Regions from separate parts of the Homo sapiens genome. Here region 2 is linked to region 1. A link means that fine-mapping ties the variant in region 1 to the expression of a gene that starts in the linked region. Tissue or cell type: whole blood. Region 1 holds a variant in brackets; the other region holds the start of a gene. All regions are shown on one strand. Distances are between the middles of the regions.

Region 1 (8,263 bases):
TGGAAAACCATCTCTGGCTATGAGACTTGTATCACTACCCCTTTCTCCCTGGGGCGACAGGTAGAGGCTGTTGTAACCATTTTGAACCTTGTCCTGGAGTGGCTTGTTGCTTTTCAGTTAAAGAGCTTGAGTGAGCCTGTCTGGGCCTCTGGCAGACCCAGGAAATCTCTGGGAAAACAAGAGGCACTTGAACACTAGTGGCAGTAACAACACATAGTGGCCTAATGTCCAGTTTCTTTCAAGTTGAAAAGAAAATAAAAAGAAATCCAGACCACTGAAAATGGATCTGGCCAATGATGTTCACAGAAGAGAAAGGAAGTTTTTCAAGATTGTGGGGTGAAGTGGAGGGAGAGAGGGAGGGGAGAGGGTAGACAGGGAGGAGCAGAGGCTGGGAATAGTGCAGAAAGTTGACATCTCTCCTTTAAAGATATTCTACAGATCAACTCTGTCTAAGCCCAGCCCTGATTTAGTCAGGAGCTTTTCTTCTTCTTTCTGCTTTGTGGTCTGAGAAGCATTGCCTGTTAAGCACATAAGTTTAGGTAACAAATGACTTTTAGTAGGAGCCTCAGAAAGGAGATACCATTTAACAGGAGCCGTTGCTTTATAGATGCAATGGCTTCTATGACAAGCAGCCTTTGGAAGTTCTAGGACCAATCGGACACCCTGACTGATGAATAAATGCCACAAAGGACTTGCCAAGTGGGAGAAAATATGAGGTTAGAGGATAAAGCCAGTACTCTCTTGTTTGGTCATAAACTTGCCTATCTGGTGATAAGATTCCAATGATGGGAATCCCTTTAACCTTTTGAGGGACTCCCCAGGCACTTAACTCATCCTAAATAGCAACTGCATCAAGAACAGACACTGGTGTGTTTAAGTTTACAAATACAGCCATAAAAATGTCAAACAGGATCTACATGGCATCATCCTTCCCCTTTGCCAATCTCTTTCATTTCCATTGGCTTCTTCTCTTATTGTAAGACATCAAAAGGCACTTCCATATTGTTTTTGGAAATCACTAATAGGGCCAGCCTCTATGAAATAGGGCCCCAGGGATAACAGGTCATGCAAACTTAATGTGACTTTGCAAAGCCTTTCACAGGAGAGAACAGGTGGCCATTAAACCATAAAAGAGGCTGAAGCTCCTCAGCTTCCAACTCTGATTCCAGGACAGGATGGAAAACCTTTGGACAGTGTCAAAAAAAAAAAACAAAAAACAAAAAACAAAAACAGTGCTGCCCTCCTTGGTCTTCCATGAGATTTGGCTGAGTGGGTCTGAGTGGGAACTCAGGGTCTCTGAGATGAAGACTTAGAAGAGTCTCCTTACCATTCTCAGCTCTTCCTGATACATTGTAGGGACCCAGACAGTGCTGGTTTAGAAACTGAAGAATCACAGCACAAAAGGTGAAGATCGAAGAAGTACAGATATTTATTATGAATCAGTTTAAACCCTTTTGTGCCTCTGACAAAGTAACTTTAAAAAATTATACTGATCAAAGGACTGATCCAGGGTTTAATATTTCAAAAACACAGATAAATAGTTTACTACAGATAAATAGCTTCACCCTTTGGGTGTCTCCCAGAAGCATCTGAAAAATTTCTAGAGGGGGTCTGTTGAAGATGTGTAACTAGTACACCCCAACCCCCAACCTCAGTGGAAAGCAATGCCCAGGGATTAGGCTATGGAAGGGCAAAATGGACCCATTCAAATTTCCTCCCAGGGACCAGGCCCTATTAACCCTGGGAAATGTCCTTAGCTGGTGGGGGAAAGGTTGGCGATCAGGAATACATATGTGTAGTTTTTGTTAGAAGCCATCCATAGCACACCCGAGGGATGAAAGGCCTCCAAGTGGGAACTGGAACGATCAAATTCTTGCTGATTATTAATTGGGCCCTAATTTCAGAAAGCAATGCTGTTTTTACAAATTGGACCTGACTTTAAAGAACAAAACACAAAAAACAAAAAGAGTAGAAAATTTTATGCTAAAAAAGATTCGCAATGAAACAATCAGTAGCACATTGCATCTGTTAAGTGTCCCAGCTCCCTGTAATGGTTATGTTTCCAACGGTTGTTTCTTTCCAAGATAATGGTGTAGGTGTTACACCCCAATCTTCATGTCCACATTCTGCAGGTTCCTTGTCTCATCAGCTGTCATAAACTGGTCTGGAGTTTCTGACGACTCCTTGTTCACCAAATGCACCATTTCCTGAGACTTGCTGGCCTCTCCGTTGAGTCCACTTGGCTTTCTGTCCTCCACAGCTCCATTGCCACTGTTGATCACTAGCTTTTTCTTCTGCCCACACCTAATAATTTAAAAAATGTACCATATCAGAAAGATTGCAGTGACTCAGGCATCAGATCATCATCCTTACTGAGCACCATCATTGATGATCACTATGGTTTATGATGGCTTTAGTGTGTGCCAAGCACTGTGCTAGGGGTTTTCTCTACTTTAACAACTAACAACCAGCACTTAACAACCAGACTCATAACAACCAGCACTCCTCAAAGTGAGGTCCCTGGACCAGCAGCAAAAGCATCATCTTGGAACCTGTTAGAAATACAAATTCTCAGCCCCACCCCAAACCTGCTGAATCAGAAAACTCTAGAGTTGGAGCCCAGGATCTGTGGCTTCTCTGCACAGTCAAATTTGCAACCCCTCAGGGGCTTCTCTGCACAGTCAAGTTTGCAAACCAGCAACTAAGACTCCAGGAAGCCGGTGTTATTATTATATTCTCTATATTCCAAGTGAAGAAACCTTGGGGATCAGAAAATTCAGTAACTTCCCCCAAGTAACTCAGCAAGTAAGAAAGAGGATTCAAACCCTGGTCTGTCTGACTCTCAAGTTCTGATTCTCTTTCTATCTTACTTCACAATGGAAATGTTTGCCTCTTTTAAGCATTTTAGCAGTTTCTGCAGATTTAGATAAACCATCAACATGATGATTGTAAATCATTCTGATTTGTATATTCCAGAAAGTCCCATAACTTCCTCTCCCAGTCAACACTTTGTCGGCCTTGTCAGCATTATTACTGAATGTATCGAGAAGAATAAAACAACATTTTTCTAGAGGTATAAGGCCATAGTGATGTTTTCCTAACATTGGCTAACTCATACAACCCTGATATAGGAAGTTTAATAACATAAGACAAATTATTCTCGTTAATTTAAGGTTTCTCAAACATTACTTAAGACCCAAACGCAAAAGAAAGTTGCTATGGAAGAGTACGACCTTGATCTTTTCCCTGGTTACTGTCCATTGCTTCACCCCACCCAGCCTAATGCAATGCTTCCTCTTTCCTGTAACA[T/C]ATCACTACTACACATATACGAGTCAGACTATGCTTAGAGGAAGGAAAGTTGCATAGCTTCACAACTACAAGCAAGATGGGGATTCAGGGAAGCAGATTACCTCCTGAATACCAGACATTTTACATGTAATTTTCTGTAATTCTTACAACACTCTTTCAAAGCAGCTATTGTTCCCATAATACAGCAATGGAAACTGAGGCCAAAAGAGGTTTAATAACTTGCTCGAGGTCACACAGAAAGTAAGAATGACAGAGCCAATATTCAAATCCAGGCCTTTATGACCAAAGCCTGGGCTCTGCCTGGCTCTGTCAATGCTGCCAGCCCTCTGGAGATTTGGAAACAGTATGAAGTCAGAATTGTTCACTTTGCCTCTGGATATTTGGAGTAATAGTGACAAAGCCTCTATTATTCATGATCATGGACCATTCCCTGTAGGACTGCCAAGGCCATAAACTTTAAGCTCTTGTTTGGGGAAATAAAAATTATACCTCCTCAACAGGAGGTAGATCCTGTCTCCTCTAGCATAAGGCTTGATGAGGGGTTGGGGGAAGGATGCTTGAACTGTGAAACAGATTCATGGGGACCAGGAATACAGATGGAGTCCAGCAGGATGCATGGTCAAGAAAAGGGCCTTGGAGGCCAGGTGCAGTGGTTCACTCCTGTAATCCCAGCACTTTGGGAGGCCAAGGCGGGTGGATCACTTGAGCCCAGGAGATTGTGACCAGCCTGGGCAACATGGTAAAACCCAGTCTGTATTCAAAATACAAAGATAAGCCGGCTGTGGTGGCATGTGCCTGTAGTCTTAGTTACTTTGGGGGCTGAGGTGGGAGAATTACTTGAGCCCAGGAAGTCGAGGCTGCAGTGAGCTGTGTTTGTGCCACTGCATTCCAGCCTGGGTGACAGAGTGAGACCCTGTTTCAAAAAAGAAAAAGAGACCAGGCACAATGGCTCATGCCTGTAATCCCAACACTTGGGAGGCTGAGGCAGAAGGATCACTTGAGGTCAGGAGTTCGAGACCAGCTGGCCAACATGGTGAAACCCCATCTCTACCAAAAATACAAAAATTAGCCGGTCATGGGGGCATGGTGGTGCGTGGCTGAATCCCAACTACTCAGGAGACTGAAGCAGGAGAATTGCTTGAACCTGGGAGGTGGAGGTTGCAGTAAGCTGAGATTGCATCACCGCACTCCAGCCTGGGTGACACAGTAAGACTCCGTCTCAAAAAAAAAAAAAAAAAAAAAAGGAAAAAAGAAAGAAGAAAAGGGGCTCGGAAGGCCTGGTTTTGAGAACTTACTGCTATGTGACCTGGGGCAACTCACTTAACCTCTCTGAGCCTCAGTTTTGCATCAATAATACCAGGTTACTAAGAGTAGCAATATCATAGGATTGTGAAAAGCCCTTGAAACAGAGACTGTCACTAAATAAATGAGTCTATTGTTATTATTCTTGCTCTTATGAGGGGTAAGGAAATAATTGTTATTCTTGCTCTTATGCGGGGTAAGGAAACTAAGGTTTGGGTTAACACTTAGAACAGTATCTGGAGCACAGTAAGCTTTCAAGTGCTATCTATAATTGTTAATATAACAAAAGCCATATGAAATGAATTTTGCTTGTTTCTCCTGGCTGCCTCCACCTACCTCGTTATTATTTACTATGAAGAGGATTTAAAAGGCTCAAGGTAGAATACTGCTTGTGTTACTTCCAATTCCCTGGCCCCTGTGTTCTTTGGAGGAAAGTTGTCTAGTTAAAGTAATTCCCATTTCCCTAACCAATGGGTGGTTGAGGGATGGAATGAAATATTGTGGGAAAGTGATTTATGAGCATAAAAAATATGTCTGTGCATGGGAGTGGGTGGGGATTAATGTTGTTAATCTAAACGAAGCTGATCTTGACAGTGGATAACATTTGACCTATAGGACACAGGAATATTGTGCTTGGTTTTTGGTTGGCCTGCATTTCCCTTTGGATTTATGTGTTTCTATCTGTCTGAGTAGTTTCAGGAGGGTAGGATGATTCTCATAAATAACTCATTCCAATATTCAGTGCTCTAGGCGTCTAATAAGTGCTTTTAAGAGACAAATTCTAATTTTTAAGTTATTCCTAGTTATAAGAATTTAAGAAGGAGCACTAGACCTTAAGGGGCTTCAGAGATCATCTAGCCCAGCTTCTTCATTATGTAAACTGGACACCAAGTCCAAGAAGTATTGTCCAAAGTTTCACAGCTTGTTATGGCACTGCACTGCAAGAATCACAGCTTGGATTTTCTGTTTTTGTTTGTTTGTTTGTTTGTTTGTTTTGTTTTGTTTTTTACAAAGTCTCACTTCATCAACCAGGCTGGGGTGCAATGGCACTATCTCGGCTCACTGCAACCTCTGCCTCCTGGGTTCAAGAAATTCTCCTGCCTCAGCCACCCAAGTAGCTGGGATTACAGGCACCCGCCACCACACCTGGCTAATTTTTGTGTTTTTAGTAGAGGTAGGGTTTCTCCATGTTGGCCACGCTGGTCTCAAACTCCTGACCTCAAATGATCTGCCTGCCTCAGCCTCCCAAAGTGCTGGGATTACAGGTGTGAGCCCCCGCGCCCAGCCACAGCTTGGATCTTCTGACTCTGAAGATCAGAGATCCTCATGGATCTGTGTCTTACCTTTATCTCCTCTTCCCTTAAATCTCAGGCATTAGCTGAGCACACAGCAATCACACAGTGTGGAAGGAGGCAGACTGAGACCTCACCAGGAAAGAGAGGGCAGGCTGGCTGGGGTTTAGAAGCCAGGTAACATACTTTTATGGCATGGCAGAATTTATCTTAAAAGATTTAGGTGGGTAACTTGGCAACTGATCTCATGACTCTTCTACCTGACAATCCTTAACGATATTTAGGGATTTATTTTGCACTGTTTTAGAGCTGTGCCATCCAATATGGTAGCCACCAGCCACATTTGGCTATTTGAATTTAAACTAATTACAATGAAATGAAATTAAAAATTCACTTCCTCAGTTGAACTAGCCATAGTTCAAGTGCTCAGTTGTGGCTAGTAGTTATATATTGGACAGTGGAGGTATAGAATATTTCCATCATCACAGAAAGTTCTATTGCATAGCACTGTTCTAGACAGCAGGACGAGGTTGGGTGAGCTCAGATTGCAGGAGCTAGACTGTAGCATAAGAGAAGGAAAATATTTCTAAATTATGGCGATGCGTAGAGAAGACCTACTGATTGGAGTGTGGGTGACTGCCTGCTGGGGTTTATAGAAAAGACGATTATTCCCATTAAAGTGAAGGCTGATGAACAGCTTTTATGTACAAGCAACATAGTAAAGTTCTCATGTTTTTTTCTCCTCTTTAGACAAATAAGATAGGTTTTTGTTTGTTTGTTTGTTTGCTTGTTTGTTTGAGACAGGGTCTCACTCTGTTGCCCAGGCTGTAGTGGCACTATCATGGCTCACTGCTGCCTCCACCTCCCGGGGCTCAAGCGATTCTTCTACCTCAACCTCCCGAGCAGCTGAGACCACAGGCATGCGCCACTATGCCCGGCTAATTTTTGTGTTTTTTGTAGAGATGGGGTTTCGCCATGTTGCCCAGGCTGGTCTTGAACTCCTAGGCTCAACTAATCCACTGCCTCGGCCTCCCAAAGTGAGCCACTGCACATGGAGTGAGCCACTGCACCTGGCCCAGATAGATTCTTTAAAGGAAAATCTTCTCTGGAGCCTCACGCAGTATCTATCAACCCAACTGACTCCTAAAATAATTATGTGCTCTCATGAAAAGGGAATAAAATATGATTTCTCTTGGAGAGCTGTAACTCAAGGAGTCAGGTGACATGAGGAACAGCAAAGAAAGCTGTTTTGGATGATGGCAGGGGTGGAAAAACCTAAAGAAGTAATAGAACCCCCAACCCAGCATCTTTAAGACAACGTGACTCACAGATCACTTCATCATGCAAGCCCATGACCCATCCTTGTATGTCAACTTCAGAGACTAATGATTTTCCACTTTTGTCTTTTAACCATAATTTATATAACAGTGTCTGGCACAGGGAATGTTCTCAATAAATATTAGCCAATTCAAATTCAAGAGGCCAATACTGCCACTAAACCTCAAGATTCTTTTAGAAAAGGGGTGGTACTCTTTTTGTTTTTTACCTTCTCTTTCTCCTTGCCAGGGCTGGTAGTCACAGGAGCCACTCAAAAGATGTTTGCTGAATAAATGAACACCTATTGGAGGCCCCATTTTCAACCAAACTTTCTCTGATGAAAATAGGATTCTGTATCTCTTTCTCTTAAATGTGACACTCAAAGCAGAAAAGCCTCAGCCTTTGAAGGGGATTAGAAATGGGTTGACAGCTTTAGAATCACAGAGCCCATTAAGGGGCCCGTACAGCTGTTCACCACCTTTTAGCTGCGTGGCAAATCTGTTTTCAATTATCAAATCAGGACATAGTAATTTATGGCATCCAAGCAGCTACTTTCCTGGTGAGATACTCGCTGTGCCGGACCCTGTGTGTCCCTGTTTGCCGGTTGCCAGGGTGACTGCTGGTCTTGGGAGGAGGGAGAGGGCAGCAATGAGGCCCCTTCTCTGCTGTCTGCTGCTGACAAGACACAGACGATGGGGGAGATACCCAGCCCCAATGTATGGACTCCAGCTGCTCTTAGGGACAGCTGAGATGCTTCTCCGAGGTCTCCCTAAATGTCGACAGCATCCATGCCAGCGTTTCTATGGTGACATGTGCAAAGCTTATGGACTGTGTATGTGAGCAAAAGTGGTGCATTCTAGGGCTTGGCAATAAAGGGCTGATTGCACACAATAGGAAATTCATATTTAATTGAGCAAAAGTAATCCAAGGGAAAATGAGGAAGCTGAAGGGAGGTATAAAGACTCTTTGTAAAGGCTCCCCCAAGTCACATTATTTAAATTCAACTAAAAAAAATCTTTCCATTCAATCATAGGCGGCCTTTT
Region 2 (8,000 bases), 89 kb after region 1:
CAGACGCTCTCCTCTTTCTCAACACCAGGCATGCAATTCCCAAGCAAAGATCCCCTCACCCAGTCTATCATTGTTGGACATTTGGGTTGGTTCCAAGTCTTTGCTATTGTGAATAATGCCACAATAAACATACATGTGCATGTGTCTTTATAGCAGCATGATTTGTAGTCCTTTGGGTATATACCCAGTAATGGGATGGCTGGGTCAAATGGTATTTCTAGTTCTAGATCCCTGAGGAATCGCCACACTGACTTCCACAATGGTTGAACCCTAAAACTTAAAGTATAATAATAATTAAAAAAAAAGATCCCCTCACCCACAGAGACAAGGAGATGCATGTGCATGAAGGACTCATCCCCCCTGGCCTCCACCAAGGGCCACTTTCTTCCTCCTGCACAAGACCCCGAATTCAAGATATCTGTTCCCCAACTCAGAGTTTCTGGGTCCAATGTCACTTAACTACATTTGGCCATTTCTCCACTTTTTGCTTTCCCATACAAAGACTGGACTCCTCCTCAAAGCCTTGCTCCTTTCCAAAGTTTCCTCGTGGTTGTCCAGAGTCCACCACTCCCCAGAATGGGGCAACAAGAGCTCCTTTCCTTCCCCTTTCCTCCTTCTCCCCTTCGCCACCCACACCATGCCCAGCCCCAAGCCCTCTGACAAAGTCATGTCTCCTTTCCAAGTCCCAGTTCCTGCCAAACAACTTTACAAGCACATGAAAGCGAGGGCCGGGGCAGTTATTGCTACTGGCACTTCATTGTACTTCCTCTAAATGATGCTGCGCAAAGGGGCCGTGGAAACACGGGGCAGGAGGGAGACTGCGGGTCTCTGGGAGAACCTCAAGGGTTAGGACAGTGCCAAATATTTGGAAGTGGGGCCTTTTAGAAGGAACGGGGAGACAGGTTGGAAGGAGTCAGGAGTCAGAATGCCCAAAGACAAAGCAGAAGATGGCACTGGTAGGTAACATACAAATAAACTTCCCTAGAGACTATAGGGAAACCACCAGGGCCCTCTTCTTTCAGGCCAGGCCCAGGGCTCTCCCTGATCTCCAGCTTGACTCTTCTCTCCCATCCTGAATGTTTCCACTTTTCAAGGGCTTATTTGAGCTCCAGTCCCTTTTGGAACTTTCCCTAAGGCCTAGAGTCCACCAAAATCCTTCCCTCCCTGAAATCCTTCCAAGTTCGTCCATCTTATACAGTCTAACATATTCTAAGCCTAGGCTTTGGAGCTCAGTGGAGCTGGGTTTCCATCCAGCACTGCTCCTGGCTATGTGAATGCCAGCAAGTCACTTAACGTCTCTAAGCATCAGTTTTCCTCCTGTCAAACAGGCCTGATAACAGGAAGCTTCTTACTAGGCCATTGTGAGGGTAGAATGAGATAACACATGGAAAATATTTAACATAATGCCTGGCACAGTGAAAATATACAGTAAATGGTAGCTAGCACTGTATTCATTTTTTTTTTTTTAACAGAGTCACGCTTTGTCACCCAGGCTGGAGTGCAATGGCATAATCTTGGTTCACTGCAACCTTCACCTCCTAGGTTCAAGCAATTCTCCTGCCTCAGCGTCCCAAGCAGCTGGGACTACAGGTGTGCACCACCACACCCTGCTAATTTTTGTATTTTTTGTAAAGATGGGGTTTCACCATGTTGGCCAAGGCTGGTCTCAAACTCCTGACCTTGGGTAATTTGCTGCCTCAGCCTCCCAAAGTCCTAGGATTACAGGCATGGGCCACCATGACAGGCTGTGTTGTTGCTATCATTATTATTATTATTTCAGCTTCAGTAGTATAAATCCTAGATCCCCAAATCCCCACCTAGCAAAGACCTCTCACTCACACAGAAAGGGAGATGCATATGCACAGAGAACTCATCCTGCCTAGCCTCCACCTAGGGTCACTTTCTTCCTACTGCAGAAAGTAGGAAGATAGAGAAAGCAGAAAGTAATTCAAGATACTTTATACTGGGTACTCAATCTAAACTACCTGGGTGAGACTGTGTGTTTCAATTTCTCAGTACTCCCGTGGAACTGGGTTAATAAATATTTGCTGAGTAGAATTTACTGCATGCAGGCTGAGCTGTCTTAATGACCCAGCTGGCACTTCTTAAAAGAAAGATTAATTTTGGCCAGCGATAAGCAAATCGGCCATGTAATTATCTGTACATACATAGACAAAGAAAGAGAATGCTTGGAGTTGAGCCGTGCTAGAATATACCTTACACGCAGCCCCTCCCCTCCATAGCCACCACAAAGCACTGACCCTGTTTGGATGAGATATTGGAGCCCTAGCTCCAGGGTCCCTGATGTTGCCCTGGTATCAAGGCTCTTCTCTCTGCTCTGAGGCTGCCAGGCAGGGAATATAAGCCACCTTACTGTTGAGATTTCCCCACACTGATTGGCAGAAGCAGGAGGTGGTGAGGACCAAGCAGCTGGTCCAGTGGTTGCCTCTCATATTCATGCTCCCTATCCCAGGCTGGAATCTCATGGAGACCCAAGACCTCACCGCAGAGCTGGTTCAAGCTTCCACAGCGCTAAGGTGGCAGTGACACTGCGGACTGTAAGCTTTGGAACAAGGCTCAGTGGGGAGCTGGGAGAACCCAGGACCCCTTTCTGGAAAACCCATTGCCAGCTAGTCTCACACTTGGAATTGTGATCCCTTCTGTGACCACCTTGATAACAGCCACTCGCCCTGTTCCAGCCCCAGTCTCTGCCCCGCCCAGCTCTGCCCTGCCTAGACACAGCCCGGTGGGGCTTGGCGAGCCCTTGGGCACAGGAGCCTGTTAGTCCAGACAACGACTGTGCGCATCCGGGAGAACGGTTACTTTCTGCCATGTGCTGCAGCTCTAGCGACCTCGCCCAAAACTGCGCGCCGGCAGCCTGCCCAACAAACTTTCTTCTCTTTCTCTTTTTCTTTCAACCAAATGGTGCTTCCACAGACACATTCTCCAACGGTTTAGCGCAAATCCCAGCCCTGCTTTCCGGAGCCCAATGCACTTCGCAGACAGCTCACTTGACTCCAGTCCCCCAGGGCCGACTCAGCCGGAGGGGCTGCCGCCGGGTCCGCGCTGAGCACCCCGCACCCATCTTGCTGCCCAGGCTGCGGCGGGCACTCACCGATCTGCGCCAGGCTCAGCGGCACGAGGCAGAGTCCCCAGGCTGCGTGCCACCAAAACTTGTCCATGGTGTCCGGAGCGAACGGAGGGCGCGGGCGAAAGGAGCTGGAGGATCCCTGGGCGCGGGGCAGGGGCCGGCGGAGGACGGGACGAGGATGGCGGACCGAACCTGGCAGAGGCTGGGGTCCGCTGGGCAATGAGGCTGCCTCGGAAGTTGGCTGCAGTTTTTATTCGAGGTTGAAAACAGTGACCTAAGACGGAGGGAGGGAGCGAGCGAAGGACACACCCAAGCAAGGGGGGCTGTGACTAAGCAGCCCGCAGAGGTTTTAAGAAGTAGCAGCCCTCCCGGGCGGGCCCCTCTGCCCCCGCCCCGTGCTCTGCTGAGGCTGTAAATAATCGGGGCTGCCAGGGACGTGGGTCGGGGAACCTGGAGTGTCGCGGGGTGCCTGTGCCTCCGAGCCCCACTGGCCCCTGCGCCCAGAGACGCACTGGCTTTCTTCTCCCGCTGGCCCCGCGGCGTCAGGACAGAGGATGACCGAACCGTAAAACCTTGCACCATTGGGTTCAGCCTTTGGCCTCTCCTTTCCCGCTAAATTTCTCTGAATCCGGCTGGAGCAAGATCTCTGGGTTTCACAGGATGTTGGATATCCTGGGAGAGGAGCTGGAGAGAGGGCGAGGTCTTGCCCTGGGTGGCGCAGTGCCTCCGTGCCCACAGTGGGGAGTGAGGGGTGGGGAGTTGGTGAATCTTCCAAGTGGAAAGAGGGAGAGCTCATTCTTTTTCCCCTCAATAACAAGTCCACATGGCTTGAATGAATTTTAGCTTCTTGGCAGAACAGCTCAGGGAAAGCTACTGATGGCCTGTCATAGGGCTGGCATTTGGCTCAGCTAACCCATGTGTTCAAGCCAGTGTGAATGGGCACCTCTCTCCACACACATGCTCATTCATCCTCCTAAATATCCTTCCATCCGCCCATCCATCTATCCACCCATCTTTCCTTATGTCCTTCTGGGGCTCTCACATCCATCCATCCTCCTGTCCATCCACTAACCACTTAGGTCCATCTATCATCCCACTCATTCATTCATCCAACCACACACCTTTTAATTTATTCAACCACCTATTCTTCTATTCATCTTCCCATACAACTTCTCATCCATCATTCCACACTTCCTTTTTCACATCTCTTCATAAAACCACAACCATCCACCATCCTCTTCTCCACCCATCCACCCACATATCTGTTTATTGATATATCCACTCATTTCCCATCTGTCCAAGATCAACATATCCACCTATCATTTTATCCATTCTCTCATCCACCCATACGTTCATCTATTATTTTTGCCCCCATTATCCTCCTTTCTGTGTAAACATTAATTCATTTTCTCCCATCTTTCCTACCCAGCAGATCTTAAAGAGAGGAAGAGTTTGTAATATTCTTCAGGGGAAGCCTTTTGAGATTGAAATATCATACTTTGAATGATAACTCTATATCTATCTATAATATACTATGGTTTAATGTTTGGAAATCAAACGCAGTATTTATTTGTCATGTGAACTACTAAAAGTAAATCTGCATGGACTTCTTGCCTGGTGAGTTACACAGAAAATGAAAGTGATTATCAGTGGCTGTGGCAAGATGAAAGGAACCATGCCAGGACTTCTGAGGGAAGGTAAGATTTTGTTATTTATTTCAAGAAATTGAAAAGTTGAGAGAAATGCACCCAGCCATCCCCCTATGCATTCATTCATCAGACATGTAATGAGTGTTGTGGGGTATCGAGGTAAATAAGACCTGGCGCTATCTTCAGAGCCCTCACCCTCTGGTACGGAATAAAACTCACAAGCAGGCCATTACCATGCAAGGTGAAATATGCTGCAAAATGTGTGTGTTTGGGGTGCTACCATTCCTAGAGAAGGGAGTCACACTCTCTCCTGGAGAACACCAGGCAGTCTTCACAGGGGAAGTGATATTTGAGGCAGGCCTCAAAGGAAAAGGAGGAGGAATTCTTCAGATGAAACTACAGGGACAAGTAAGTCATCCACAGGCAGTACAGTGTAGTGACGAACAGCATGGATTCAGGAGCTAGAACACCTAGATCCAAACCCTATTATGGCTGCTTCTTAGTTGTGTGACCTTGCCTAAGGCAATTAGCTCAATTTGCTCAAGTATAAAATGGGCTTAATAATAGTATCTATTATTACTATTACAATTCTATTACTTCATAGAATTGGTGAGGATTAAATGACTCAAAAGCCCTGCATGTATTAAGCCGTAGATTTATGTCTACATATGCATGCAGTAAGCACTTTAAATAAGTGTTTGCTATCATTACTAAAAGCAAAATTGTGTTTGAGCATAGAAAAGTGAAAGAACATGGCTTGTCCAGAGAATAGAGAGCAATGTGAGCTGATCTGAACATAGATCAGATGAAGGGGCTGGGGGAAGATAGCAGACATGAGGTTACAGGTATGGGGACTACAAGGTGTAAGCTATGCCAGGGAGTTTGAACTTGACCCTGTAGGAAATAAGGAGGCAACGTACTTAGTTAAAATTATTATCATTGTTATGTTAAAATATGCATAACATAAAATTTACCATTTCACCCATTTAAAAGTGTTTATAGCAGTGACGTGTAGTACTTTAACAATATTGTGCAACCACTACCACTGTCTAGTCCGGTATAAATTTTTCAGTTGTGGAGATTCTGTTTGACTAAAGACTACTCCTCTTGCATTTTCAGGAAGAGTGTTTGGGACTGAAAAATCCTTGTCTGGATCTAGTCCTCAGCCACTCAGAAGCTGGCATGCCATGACTCAAAGAGCCGCCCGTCTGGAATGAAGACAGTGACCCGTAACTCCCACCTGAAGAGCAGGTGCTTGGAAAATGCTGCCAGTCCGCAGGAAAAAGTTGTTACTGCTGCTGTCTGTGACCAAGAGGACACTTTATTTCTTGAAACAACTGGGGGCAAACTGGCTCCCAGATAAGGCTTCAGTCCCTACTCATGTGAGGAAACCAGCCCTGGTAGGTTCCATGCACAAGAATACAGGACAAGGAGCAGCTTTTTTCACCTCATGCAACCTCCAGGGATTTCAGCTTCCTTTTCTTGGAGCAAGAAAGTGAAGTGACGTGGGGAGTCACTAGGAACAATGTCTGTCTTACTGTGTTTCATGGAACCTGGAGGTTCCTTAGAGACCCCTCAGAAGCAGACCTAGTGGTCAGAGTAAAAGCTGAGGAGTAAGCTGTGCCTCTCCCTCCCCAGGCCCCATCCCAACCACAGAAGTTCCACTTGCATCAGTTTTATATACCAGACTATTGCATGAAATTACATTTTGACAGATGATTATTCTTAAAAAATATATAAAAACCAACAAACTAGGCCATATCAAGTCCTGGTCCCTTCTCCATTAGTGCAGTAAACAATTCCACCAAGGAAAATATAGGTGTGAAAGTGCTTTGCAAACTGTAGAAGGGCATGCAAATTCTAGGGGCTGTAATTAGGATTATTCTCCCCAGAAGCGGGGATTATTTTGTTTGCTTGCTTCCCGATAGTTTGGTGAGGGACTGAGGTCATTTGCCCCCATACCACAAATGACTCATTTCAAATAACAGACCTGGTGACTTACTGAGTCAAGGTCCACCTTTGGGAATTCCTGGATCACCTCTTTGAGCTCCCCTCTCATCCACTTTCCATTCTAAAGACACCCTGCCCACACCACTGGTCACACAAACCCTTCCCAAACTCTTAGATGCTTGATATCTGTTGTGTGTTGCACCATCTTTCTTTCTAAGCCAAACCATGGGATGTGGGAAACTGGAAAGGAAACTTGAATTGATTTGAGTTGACACGAGATTACACTATTTGGGAAGAATCCAGAATTCAATCAGCAGCCTTGGACCGAGAAAGTCCAGGTCTGAGCATTGGCTTTCCCCCTTATCAGAGGATGACTTAACCTCTGGGAGTTTCGGTAATCCCAGCCACAAAACAAGGGTAATCAGACCTTTCCCATAGTTTATTATGAGTAGTCAGTGAAAGAAGACATCAAGACCATTTCCTGGTGTGCCTGCCTCATGGTGGGACTCAATGACCTCTAAGCTACCTGAGAACAGGGACATGTCCTTCTGGGGTGCCAGCACATACTCAGCTCTCAGTCCCTAACATATACACTGTGCTCCATAAATAAGCATTACATAAATGTATGAGGGACTGTTATTTTTTTTCCCTCCCATCAAAGCGCATAGGGGTGTTTCAGGAATCACATGAACTGGTGGGAGGAAACACATAGACAACTTGACAGTTTCTAAATAAATGCAAGCAGTGACATCCTATTTGGGGTGACTGGTTCAGGGAGACTTGAGTGCAAACAGAGCATTACTCACTCTGGCAGACTAGGGTTCTTTGCTGAAATATTGGGGACTGATGGCTTCTGACTGGTAGTAATAAATCCTGTTCCTCTCGAGCAAAGAAAAGCCAAATCTAAACCAAATGTGAGCAGGAGTGTGAAATGGAAAGCTGGGAGATCTTGGGCTGAATCATGGAATTCAAGGATTACAAATGCAGCAGGTCACAGACTCTTTTAAAGGGACAATATTTAATTATTTCACGGGACAGCTTCCCAGAAAAGGAATGATCTGGCACAGTAAAGAAAAAATGACATTCCAGTTAAACCTTAACTCTTAAAAAAATTCATCCTTAGTTCATATTCACAGTGTGAATTCTACACATATAAATGAGCAGTGGTGAAAAAAGCTCTTGCGAAATAATTATTAGTAAAGTCTAAATAAACCAGTAGCTGGGAAGCAATCTTCATGAAAAATAAATAACCTCTAAGGATTAGTCTCAAGCTAACCAAATGTGATTATAGAGCTGAGCCTTTAGGATTA

Which allele goes with the higher level. Positions count from the first base shown, and alleles are read on the strand shown. Sizes are in standard deviations (SD) of each study's normalised expression.
In carriers of allele T in region 1, the expression in whole blood of the gene that starts at base 3,315 in region 2 tends to be lower than with C alone (small effect, 0.12 SD a copy in GTEx).

Evidence for each region. PIP is the estimated chance that this variant, and not a neighbour inherited with it, causes the effect.
Region 2: CD44 starts here. The variant in region 1 is fine-mapped to the expression of CD44 in whole blood (GTEx, PIP above 0.99).

What each region holds. Positions count from the first base shown.
Region 1 is chr11:35,223,170-35,231,432 of GRCh38, reverse strand. CD44 (CD44 molecule (IN blood group)) reads right to left here. Exons shown (of 18, transcript NM_000610.4): 18 at 1-2,304. The coding sequence ends at 2,100. Among named protein-coding and RNA genes, the nearest start is that of CD44-AS1, 12 kb to the right of the region's middle. The variant T/C (reference allele first, on the strand shown) is at 3,310.
Region 2 is chr11:35,134,486-35,142,485 of GRCh38, reverse strand. CD44 (CD44 molecule (IN blood group)) reads right to left here and starts at 3,315. Exons shown (of 18, transcript NM_000610.4): 1 at 3,116-3,315. The coding sequence starts at 3,182. CD44-DT (CD44 divergent transcript) reads left to right here and starts at 4,454. Exons shown (of 3, transcript NR_120528.1): 1 at 4,454-4,788; 2 at 5,860-6,140. RefSeq lists enhancers at 1,918-2,418, 3,586-4,150 and a silencer at 3,606-3,675.